Linked DNA regions of Homo sapiens: region 1 is linked to region 2. Evidence: fine-mapped expression QTL. A gene starts in region 2. The other region holds a variant in brackets. All regions are shown on one strand. Distances are from middle to middle. Region 1 overlaps ADSS1 (adenylosuccinate synthase 1). Region 2 holds the start of INF2 (inverted formin 2).

Evidence for each region. PIP is the estimated chance that this variant, and not a neighbour inherited with it, causes the effect. A credible set is the group of variants that fine-mapping cannot tell apart.
Region 1: its variant is the best candidate, but not a certain one, in a credible set for the expression of INF2 in whole blood (INTERVAL, PIP 0.66).

The regions. Positions count from the first base shown.
Region 1 is chr14:104,731,056-104,736,055 of GRCh38, reverse strand. It overlaps ADSS1 (adenylosuccinate synthase 1), which reads right to left. Exons shown (of 13, transcript NM_152328.5): 2 at 934-1,036. It overlaps LOC124903396 (a long non-coding RNA gene), which reads left to right. Exons shown (of 3, transcript XR_007064365.1): 3 at 915-1,488. Among named protein-coding and RNA genes, the nearest start is that of ADSS1, 9.3 kb to the right of the region's middle. The variant G/A (reference allele first, on the strand shown) is at 3,065.
Region 2 is chr14:104,686,499-104,692,000 of GRCh38, reverse strand. INF2 (inverted formin 2) reads right to left here and starts at 2,383. Exons shown (of 23, transcript NM_022489.4): 1 at 2,262-2,383. RefSeq lists silencers at 1,870-1,919, 2,010-2,249, 2,270-2,359, 2,460-2,719 and enhancers at 2,412-3,401, 3,402-4,389.

The DNA.
Region 1 (5,000 bases), 44 kb before region 2:
TGCTCACATTGAATGGGTCCAGGCCCATGCATCTGCTGGGCACACACCTGAGGCGCCTGACCCCCACTTCCTGACGGGCTGGGAAGGGGTCAGATACATCACAAGGATGGCCTTGCTGAAGTCTGGAAACAGCTGGAAGGGAAAGTACAAGAAGGGGCCTGGCTGGCTTGGCCACTGGGATCAGGAAAAGCTTCTCTGAGCAAGGGGGTTTTGGGCTAAGAGCTGAGGCCAGGGTGCACAGAGCAGGCTTCTGACCGAGAGAAGGAGGGAAAGAGCCACGGAACCCTGGGGACAGAGGTGGCTCGCCTCTTGGAGCACTGAGTGGTCACAGGTGGCTGCAGGGGAGGAGCTGTGTCCGGACCCAGGAGGGGGCAGGCGATGTGGAAGGAGGTCCCTCTGCAGCACGGACTGGGAAGGGGCTGGAACCAGGCCTGCCACGTGGCCACAGCAGCCCAGGCAAGAGGACGGCCACATGGCTCGGCAGGGCCGGGGAGGGCACGGCCTTGTCCACACAGCCTGGTCGCCACGCAGCGAGAAGCCAGGCCTGTCGCAAGCACATACTCACTCACAGGTATGCACATGGAGTCACGGGCACATGGGCGTGTGGTCTCCATGCCCACACAGGAAGTATGTGCATGTGAGGGATCAGGGATCAGGGATCAGGGATCAGGCACTCCCGCTCCTGCGCGGTGGATGTGACTCTGCCCCTCCTCCCATCAGCCCTGTGTCCTCTCAGCTGCGTTCCCAGCCCAGGCCCGGGCTATGCAGGTTTCTGTGCACCAGTGCCTGGTGGGGCAGGTGGAGGCTGGGGTCCAGCCTACTGCTAGAGCAGTCATCACCAGGCTCTGGTGCCCCGTGCCCCCATGCGTGGGGCTCCTGGGCTGGCTGACACCCCCTTTCCTGCTCACACACAGGTCGGGGCAGGGCACTCACCAATGAAGGACACGGCCTTGGTGTTGATGATGCCGCTGGGCAGCAGGTGGAAGTCGTACTCTTTCCCATCCACCACCACCGTGTGGCCGGCGTTGTTGCCCCCCTGGAACAGAAACCCGGCTGAGCTGAAGGCACTTGGGTACTGAGGACCCCCCGGACATGGACTGACCCACATGGGGCTTCGTCTGTCCCTGCAGGGCACTGCTGTTGGATTTTGGGGTGTCTGGTTTGGTGGCCAGCTCTGATGCGTCTGTGCGGGACTGGGATGTGGGCATCCTGCACCTTGGAAGGAGGGCAGCAGTTTGGTCAGGGGCCTGGGTCGGGGAGGGTCTGGCCCAGGCTGGTGCCAACACCTCCAGGTGGCTTGGTGCAGGTCTCTGCAGCTGCGGGCCCCGCTCTGGAGCTCGCTCCTCTCATGCAGGAATGAGGAGGCCTAACCCTCCCACAGAACATGAATTCAGCACCCCCACGGCCAAACCTGCCCTCACCCACTTTAGCAGAAACCCTTCCCTTTGGGCAGGCACCTCCCGTCTAAGAATGAAAAAGAAAAAGCCATTCTGAGCCAGCCCTGTTCTGGGAAACACCCAGCCACAGGCTCCCCTCTCTGGGGGGATTCCTGCTGATGGTGGGGAGAGGGCCTGGGACTAGCATGTGCAGGCTCCAATCCCCCTCCTGCCATGAGACAGCCACATGATACAAGCAAACTGTGCCACGCCCTGGATGCCACTGCCTTCGCTTCCCCAAGGGCCTCTTGTGCCAGTGGAAGCTAGAGGATAAGCTAGGGACCCTCTCCAGGTGGGGCAAGAACCAAAGCCCTCCTGCCTTTTGCTTGGCTCTGCTCAGCAGGGCACAGGTCCAGTGGGTGTCCCCTGCTGCCCCCACCCTCTGCTCCTGCAGGGCAGGTGGGCTGGTGGCATGATGGATACAGGGACACTCCAGTCCCAAGGCACGGCTGATAGGGCTCCCCTACGTGCAGGCAGGAGGCCCCGCTTCACAGCTGAGGAAGAGGCAGCATCTCTGATGGCCCATGATGGCTCATTGCCCCTGAAGCCAGGCCCCCACCAACGGCAAGGGATATCCCTACAGCACCTTTTGGTCTTTATGCCACCATAAGAGACCCCTGTAGGCCCAGTGTGACAGAGCCTGGAGGGAGCCCCAGAAGGTCTCTGCCCCAGGAGAGAAGGCCAGGTCTCCAGCCCCACTTCTGGCCAGCCACTGGATGGCATGGGGGACCCTTCCTGTTGCCCTCTCTCCTTGAGCTCCACCTGGAGGGTAAGCAGGGTCCCGGTGGGGTTGCGGGGGGCCACACACGGATACCCTGCCCCACAGACTGGTCTGGTCTCTCCTTCACTACTTCCCTTTTGGGGCCCACTCTGTCCCCAGGACCCCAGAGCCCAGATCCAGCCCCACCTTCCTGCCTCACCTCCCGGCAGAAAAGCCCTCAACTTGTCTACGCATGGGGGATTCTCCCAGCCACACCCCACTGCTCTCTGCCCGGCAGAGGGGTCTCAGCTCCCCTCCCACCCTCACAAGCCTGGCAGTGGGGTGTCTCACATAGCCTTTCCCCGCCTGCCCAAGCAGGACCCTCCGTGATGGCGGCCCCCTCCCTCTGCACTAGCTCCTCACGATGCATCTGGACAAGAGTTACACGGAAACAGCCCCGGCGCCTCGTGGCAGGGCAACCCTGGGGACAGAGGGGGGGCAGATCCAGAGATGCCAGGCAGGGGGCTCACCCTCCTGGGACGTAACTTCACACACTGGCAGATTAGGCAGCACTCAGAGCCCTGAAGCCCCTTCGCAGGGCAGGAGTCCCCACCTCCACGCCCTGACTTCTGCCTGGCCCTGCCTGGCTGGGCCCAGTCCTTATAGGAAACCAGTTCAGGACAGTGGCTCTGGGCGGGGCGGTGCTGGGTGAACTGGGTGGGGATCCTGGGAGGTGGAGAGATGCAGGAAGCCTGGTGGCAGGAGGGAGGGTGGTCTGAGGGCACCTGGAGGCCTTGTGGGAGCTAATGCTGCCAGGCGCCAAGGCAGGGTGGGGGTGGAGGGTCAGGGTACTTCTGCAGCCTGGGCGGATGGGCAGGGCTCTCAGCCTGTGCTGCTCAGCAGACGCTGAGTCAGCCCTGGGCGCACA[G/A]GTTCAGTCCATCGGGACGGGGCAGGCCCTGGCGTGACTCGAACAGATTCTGGGTTTGGGGGTCACAGCACCCTCCTGGAGACCCCCACTCTTACTCTGTCCTTGCCTCGGCACATATGTGGTAATTCCTCTCCGCTGGGGTCATGGAGTACCTTCATGCCCACGACTGCATCTGCTGCCTTTTGGGGGCAGTCAGGGGTGAGGTCTCTGAGGACAGGTAGGGAAACTGAGAGAAGGGAAGCCTATCCCTTGTACACAGCCCCGCCTGGGCGGGGGGGCAGGCGTCGAGGGATGACCTGGCAGTCAGGCCAAGTGCTGCCTACCATGGCAGAGTGCCCAGTGCCCACGTCAACAGGCCCAGGAACGCCCTGCTAGGCACACCCTGGCTCTGTTGGGGGCAAACACAGGCTCCTAGGAACAGGCGCGGCTTGTCGTAGGCCAGTGGGTGTCCAATGACCGCAGGGCCAGTGCCAGGCCACCCCTGGGAGCAGGAGCCAGCTCAGGACGCTGAGCCTGGGGCCTGCTGATCCGCAGGGGCTCCCAGTTCTGGGGAGCCCAGGACGATGGCCCCAGAGAGACACCAGTCTGTCCTCCCCATCACCAGTTGAGGTCTCAGGACGTCAGGCTGCACAGGCACGTGGTGAGAGGCTGGGGACAAGAAGTCCTCCTGCCTTTCCTCCAGCTTCAGCCTGGGATTCCCACAGCAAAGGCATCCAAGGAGGGCTGGACAAAGGGGAACAAAGGAAAACTGGTACCGTCAGGCTGGGGCTCTGCACAAAGGCAGAGCCTTCAGGTCCAGGCCAGGGTCTGCCTTGCCATGGGAGCCACCAGCCAAGGCTGACCATGAGGCTGGCCGATGAGGAGGGACCAAACATCAGGGCCAGCCTCGCCTCCTGGAGAAGCACCAGGACCTTCTTTTGGAGCTGCCTTGGGCTGCAGGTGGACGCCAGGCCTCTCAGCACGGTGTGCAGGGCAGTCCGGAGGCTGCTGCCCTCTCACAGGGCTTCCTCCTCTTGCACAGACGCACTGGTGCCTCCAGCCCCACCGGTCTCCCTCTTCTCCTTTCCTGGCCCCTGCTGGCCCAGTAGATGGGTCCATGGATCCTGCTGCAGGGGGCCCCTCAGGGTCTGCTTGTTCCAGGCAGCCCGGCCCTGAGCCCCGAGTCCTGTCACCATCCCCCCAGTGCCGAGCCCCCAGGGCAGCCGCACTCACTCTGTCTTTCCTGCCTCATGGGGATAAGTGATGGGCAGAAGAGCCAGGGCGAGTGTGTGCCACGGGACAGCCCTGCTCAGGCACGGCTCCCACCACAGCCCCTCAGGCCAAGCTCCAGGGTCCCCACGTCCAGCCGGCAGGCCTCTCTGCCAGGCACCCCTCGGCTGCCCTGCTCCTCTGAAAGCAGAGCTGAGGCACCTGAGCTCTGGGAAGGCCATGGGCACATCCATCCTTCAGCCACCACTCAGGGTCCTCTAGGGGCTGCAGAGTCCTGCATTTACCTAAGATGCCCACTGCTGCCCCTACAGGTGGAGAGGAAGCCCAGCCCTGCTGCTCCTAGGAAAGGAGCCCCCTGCATGGCCAATGGGCTGAGCCACATGCTGTGAGCTGCCATGGACAGTCACCCATGTTGCACACTGCACAACTCTAGGGGGTGCTGTCACAGAGCCATGGCATGAATGATGGCGCCTAGAGGTGTAGCAGCTGCAGGGCCACATCATGCCACCTTTCCACTGTTTGCCAGGTCAGGGACAGTAGATTAAGGTAAGCGCCCAACTCTCAGAAGCACAGTGATGCAAGGGTGCGAGTGAGAGAGACGATATGAAGATGGATGGTGCAGAACACCTGCCTTGAGTGACCTGTACCCAAAGGCTCAGACCAGGCTGGGGGCCCAGAGTTAGGGGCACCAAGGGAGCCTGGTGGCCCCCTGGCGCTCTCTACCTGC
Region 2 (5,502 bases):
AGAGAGGACGGCCCCTCAGGAGAGGACAGGCACCACCGGTCTGCCCTGCTCTCCTGGCCTGGTGGTTGCCAGGGTATACCGGCACTGGGCTGGGGGGCAGCTGTGTGAGCAGACCTCACCCCAGCTCAGGACCCAGGCTGTCTGGGTGCTCAGAGGCAGACCAGGCAGGACTCTCCCTCCTAGGGTGAGGCTGGCAGGAGTGGAAGCCTCTCTAACAGGGGGCCAGGTGGTTGGACCCTGCTCACCCCTCCAGCGACGGGGAGCCCGTGCCCCTGCCCTCTCTCCTTCCCACCGTTGGTAGAACTTAGTCTTTGACTTTAGGTGTCCACTAGGCCTGGGTCTGCTGTGGCCCCTGGGGACCACCCTCCAGAGACTGGCTCCTATGTGGCCTCCACCTCCCGGCCTTCCCGTCCACCATCCTGAAAACAGAGGTGGGTGTGCCTTCTCCAATGTAATGTGTCCACTGGGCCATGAACCACACACCTATCAGACACCTGCTGTTTGCAAGATGGAGGTAGGGGAGGGGCTGGCAGCAGGGAGTCAGGTCTCATTCCTGACTACAGGGAAATTTGACCTCCAGGCACCAGCAAAAAGCCAGGGGCTTGAGCTTACTTCACTGTCCCCGTCCAGAGCTGGGCCAGCTGCGTCCTGCCCCACACCCACAGGCAGCACCGCATCACTTTCCAGTCACCACCCACCCCTCCCGCAGCCTGCATGAACCGCATAACTTTTCCAACCCAGGAAGTAACTGCACTTTGATGGAAGGCGCAGAGTCTATTTCAGGTAGGAGCTTCCACGTCCCCACATGTGCGGTGTGTGTCATTCGCTTGACAGCCGTCAGCTCCTCCACAAAGTGGGCGCTCACCTGAAGGTTAACTCAGGAGCCCTGGCTGTGGAGGCTACAGTCGCACCTGGCCACTTGGTCCGTCCCCACTAGCGACATCCCCTTTGCCGGGCTGCAGGGCCCATGACAGTCCAGGGATGGGAGGGCAGGGCCTGGGCAGGGCCCACTGCACCAACCTGGCTTTTAGAACAGAAAATTGCTGCTGCCCTGGTAGGGGTGGGAGCAGTGTGAGGTCTCAGACCCCAGGCCTGGAACCCAATGCTACTATTTGCTGCACTGGGGGCTGAGCACCGACACCCCAAAAGCCCCTGGCTGGGTGGCACCCTCGGGGTCTGAGGCACTGCTCTGGGACCCCACCTTCCCAGTGCAGGGCGGCAGGGAGCAGGTCCCAGCCTGAGCTGCTGTCCCACCCTTCAGAGTGCAGATGTGGAAACTGAGGCCGGAAGAGGGCGAGTATCCTGCTCCATTCCAGTGCCAGACGGAGGGGCAGGGCTGGCAGTAAGGGAATTTCCTACGTCCAGCGCCTTCTGGGTGTGCCTGACCTCTGGCCCGGTTCCTGGGTTCCTGGTTCCCTGCCTGGGCAGGGTCTCTGCCTCTCTGCCTCCTGGTGTGTCCAGCTGGAGTGGGCAGTAATGCTGTGGTCACAGCTGAGCTGCGGGAGCCCTGGGTGGGGAGCTTGAGCCCCAGAAGGCCCAGACAGACAGACCACCCCCCACGCCTGTGCTCCCCAGGGGGCATTGGGGACGGTCAGGGACACAGCTGGTCACCCCGCCTTCCCCTCCTTAGTCATGGTCACTCCTGGGGCGACTCCCCAGTTAGAGGGTTGACGGGTGGGTCTGGGGGCGTACAGGGATTGGATCCTACCCCACCCAAAAGGAACAGAGAGCTGTGATGGAGGCTGATTCCCCTAAGCCTGCCAGCGGTTGCGGGGTGGGAAGGGCTCCCTGTGCGCCCACCTGCGCGTGGGCAGCTGGAAGCCAAGCAGTCAGGGTGGGGCCGCAGGCCGGCGCGCACCTCGGGGTGCCACCCGGGCGGCGGACCCGAAGTTGAAGTTTATTTTCCCAACTGTGGCTGATTCATGGTCAGGATGTGGCAGCCGCGAGGCGCGGAAATCCCGCCTGCCCTGGGAGTAGGCCCGGCCGACCCTGGGCCCACCACTCTGCGGCCAGTGCGCGCTCGGGCGGTGCCTCGGCGCGGAGGACCATAGTCCCGAGCGGGGCGCGCGGAGCCGGGGGGGCCAGGGGCGCCCTGGGGTCCCCGCCCGGGAACTGTACCCTGCGCCGCCGGACCGCCCGCCGCCACCTGGGCACACACGCCGCAGCCCGGAACCTCGCTCCTGGACCCAAGCACGCCCCTGCCTCCTCCCGGACTCAGTTTCCCCTGAAGCTCCAAGCGGACCCCGAGGCCAAGGACTTACCCGGTGAGGCAACGGCCAGAGGGCGGTGGTGCGGCCGGCGCTCCGTCCGGGGCCGGGTCAGGGGCTGCGGGCAGCCGGCGCCCACTGCCGCGCTCCGCAAGGCTCGGACGGTGGCTCCTGGCGGGCGCGGGGCGGGCGGGGCGGGCGGGAGGAAGAGGAGGTGCCGCCCCGCCCGTCAGCGGCCACGTGGGGAGCGAGCGCGGGCCGGGGGCGGGGCCTGGGGGGGGAGGTGGGTGGCTGGGGGTGGCCCCGCCCACTGTGGCCGGTCCCTGAGGGCGCTTTAAGGGGTCTCCCCACTCCCGTGAATAACCTGGCCGCCCCCTCGCGGTCCCTGCTGGCCTGGCTCCTGGTGGGCGGAGATGGGGGTGGGACGCGCAGATCGGGGCCGTCTCCCGCCTCAGCCCCCACTGTCCGCCCCGTCCCTGCCCTCCACCGCCTCCCGTCCACCTACACCCCTATCCTCCGGTGGGACTGGCCTCCCAGGCGCCGCTCACCTCTCTCTGCCCCGGCCCGGGACTCCCGTTCCAGCCAGCCGGATCCGGAGTCCCCGCGTTCGGGGATCCCTCAGCAGAGATGGCTCTTCCCAGGCTTTGGGGAGAGAGAGCCTACCCATCAACCAGGCCACCCATGTGGCCTCCTCTCCGCAGCCCTGCCTGACCCCCTTCCACCCTTGATGGGGTCTCGGCGGTCTTGGGCAGCCGCACTTCGCCGGTTGGTGGAGACAGCTGCATGAGGGCCGCGGAGGTGTCGCAATGGGGTGGGTTTTCTCTGCCACCCCTCTGCTGTCCGGCCTCATCTGTCTCCTAGATTGAGGGGGGCACCCATCCCCCCACCGCCGACATTGACCAGCATGGGGCGTGCCCATAGTCGGCTCTGAAAGCCAGCCTGGTTGGATGAGAGCCAGACCCCAGCTCTGGAAGTCCCTTCTGACGTCTGACCCTCAGTCAGAGCTGCAGGAAGCAGCGCACCAGGCCTGGGGTTTGGGGGCCACTGGCAGCTAGAGGGAGGGCAGAGGAAGGCAGGCCTGGGGGAGCCCCCGTGTGACATGTGACAGAGCAGACACAACCCCTGCCCTGAGAACCGGCGCCAGCACTCCCTGTGCGGCCTCAGGCTCGGATATGACTCTGTGGAGCCTCAGTTTCCCCATCTGTAAAATAGAATAAGTACCCGTAAGGGCTGTATGAGGGTCAAGAACATGCGGATAAAGTGTCTCCACTCGGAGTCCTGACATCTCTCTCCGGAGGGCCTGCTGTGTGGGCCGTGGCGGCCAGGGCTCAGGGTGAGGGCGAGGGGAGAGAAAAGGGCTCCTGAATGGCTTCCCAGCCCCGATGCAGCTTCTGCTTTGAGGCCAGCTGCGTGTCCTTTGGCTTTGGTGTGCCTCCGCTCCGGTGGGGATAAGCGCCGAATTGCAGGCTGCGTCTGTCTGCTCCCTGTGCGGACCTTGCCCTGCCCAGCAGCCCCAGCCCCGGAAGTTTGCTGGCTCAGCCCCAGTGCAGGAGCAGCTGCAGGCCACAGCCCCGGGTGTGCCTGAGGAGCCAGCCAAGGCAGGCGCTCACTGGACACCCTCCAACCTGGGCGGCCGCTGCTCCTAGACAGGCACTCTGCAATTCTTGGAATGCACCTGGAAGGCCGGCCTCCGGCCCTCCACACCGGGCTCCAGGGCCCCTTCCAGAGCAGAAGGCCTTCCTGCCCTCCCTCAAGCTGGGCTTTGGGTCTCCTGGTGCACTCCTGGACCCGAACATTGGTGCCTGCCCTGGTACCACCCCACCCTGGAGGGCACGGGCGGGGCTGACTCATCTGCGTTGGGAGCTGATGCCTGGCAGCGGTGCTGGGCAGTGGGTGTGTTTGTTGATCCAGTGAATGGAGGAATGTGAGGAGGTTGGTGGGGAGTGAGCTTTGACCTGCAGCCCCCTCCCCTGTCCACCTGCCTGGGGGAAAGTCAGAGTCCTGAGCCTTACTCAGAGGCTGGAGTAGGAGGTCAGGTGTGGGCGAGGGGTCCACCTTTCCTGCCCTGATGGGGGAGGGAGGCCCAGCGCCCCCAGGGCCGCTCCTGCCTGGGGCTGTCTCCCTTGCACCCAGTCGTGCTTCCGAGCTGCACACCTGGTCCAGAGAGGCCAGCACAGGCCGGAGCAGGGTGAAGAAGGTGGGGTGAATGTGATTTAGTTGGAGAGAGGTTGGAGAAGTCCCTGGGGTCGGCAGGGAGTGCAGAGGAGGGCTTTGGGCCCTGATTAAGAGTGTGTGTCTGTGTGTGTGTGTGTGTATGTGTGTGTGTGTGTGTGGAGTGGAGGCCGAGGTCAGAGGTCTGGGAGGGTGGAAATGTGGACACTGAAAGGGGGTTTTCCGTCAGGCTTGAACCCACCATGCCCGGGGCAGCAGGGTTCAACCCGGCTTGAGCACTGATTTTCTGAGACATACAGAGGCCCCCTCCTCTTCTCCTTCAGTGGCTCACCCTCAACCCTCTGTACCTCCAGCGCTCCCAGACTCCATCCTGGCCCTATTCTGAGCTTGCTTCCTGGCCCTGGGGTTGAAGAGAGGACCGATTTGGCCTCAGAAACACACCACCTGCAGCCACTGCCTGCGGCTTCCGGAGCTGCTTCCTGGAAGCCATGGCCTGCCTGGAGCCTCCCCTCCTGGGTGTCGGTCCTTCCTCGGAGCCGGGTACACAAGTGCCGGCCCCCAGCTGCAGGTACCCAGATGCCTGAGAACAGGGTCGTGCAGGTACAGGCTGGTACTGTGACACACCCAGGCGGAGCCACATGTTCCTGGCCACTGGCACAGAGTGCAAGAGTGGCCCTGCCACTGTAGGCCTGTGGAGAGCTTGCCTCTGCCTCTTGCTGGAAGATTGGGATGAGGGGAGAGCAGGCCTTGGCACCGACAGCTTGAGTTCTGCTAGAAACAGGCAGGCAGGTGTGGGCGTTCTGAGAGAAATCCTCCCAGCCTGATGTTGGCGCCGCCGTGCAGTCAGGACAGCCCTGCATGCAGCAGGCGGCCACTTGCAGGCCCAGAAGGGCTTCCTGGGGTCCACCTGAGCAGCAGCCTGGCCATGGGTTCATTTCCTTCATCAGTTCAGCACCCAGAATGCTTTTTATCTTTTTTCCCCTTTTGAGATTTTATTTTGCATCCTACTGTGGTGCCCTGAGATGATCTCTGACATTGTTACAGAATGAAGTAAGTGAAAACATGCCTGCTCACCCATGTCCACCCACCTTGCCCACCTATGTACCCATTCACCCATTCATCC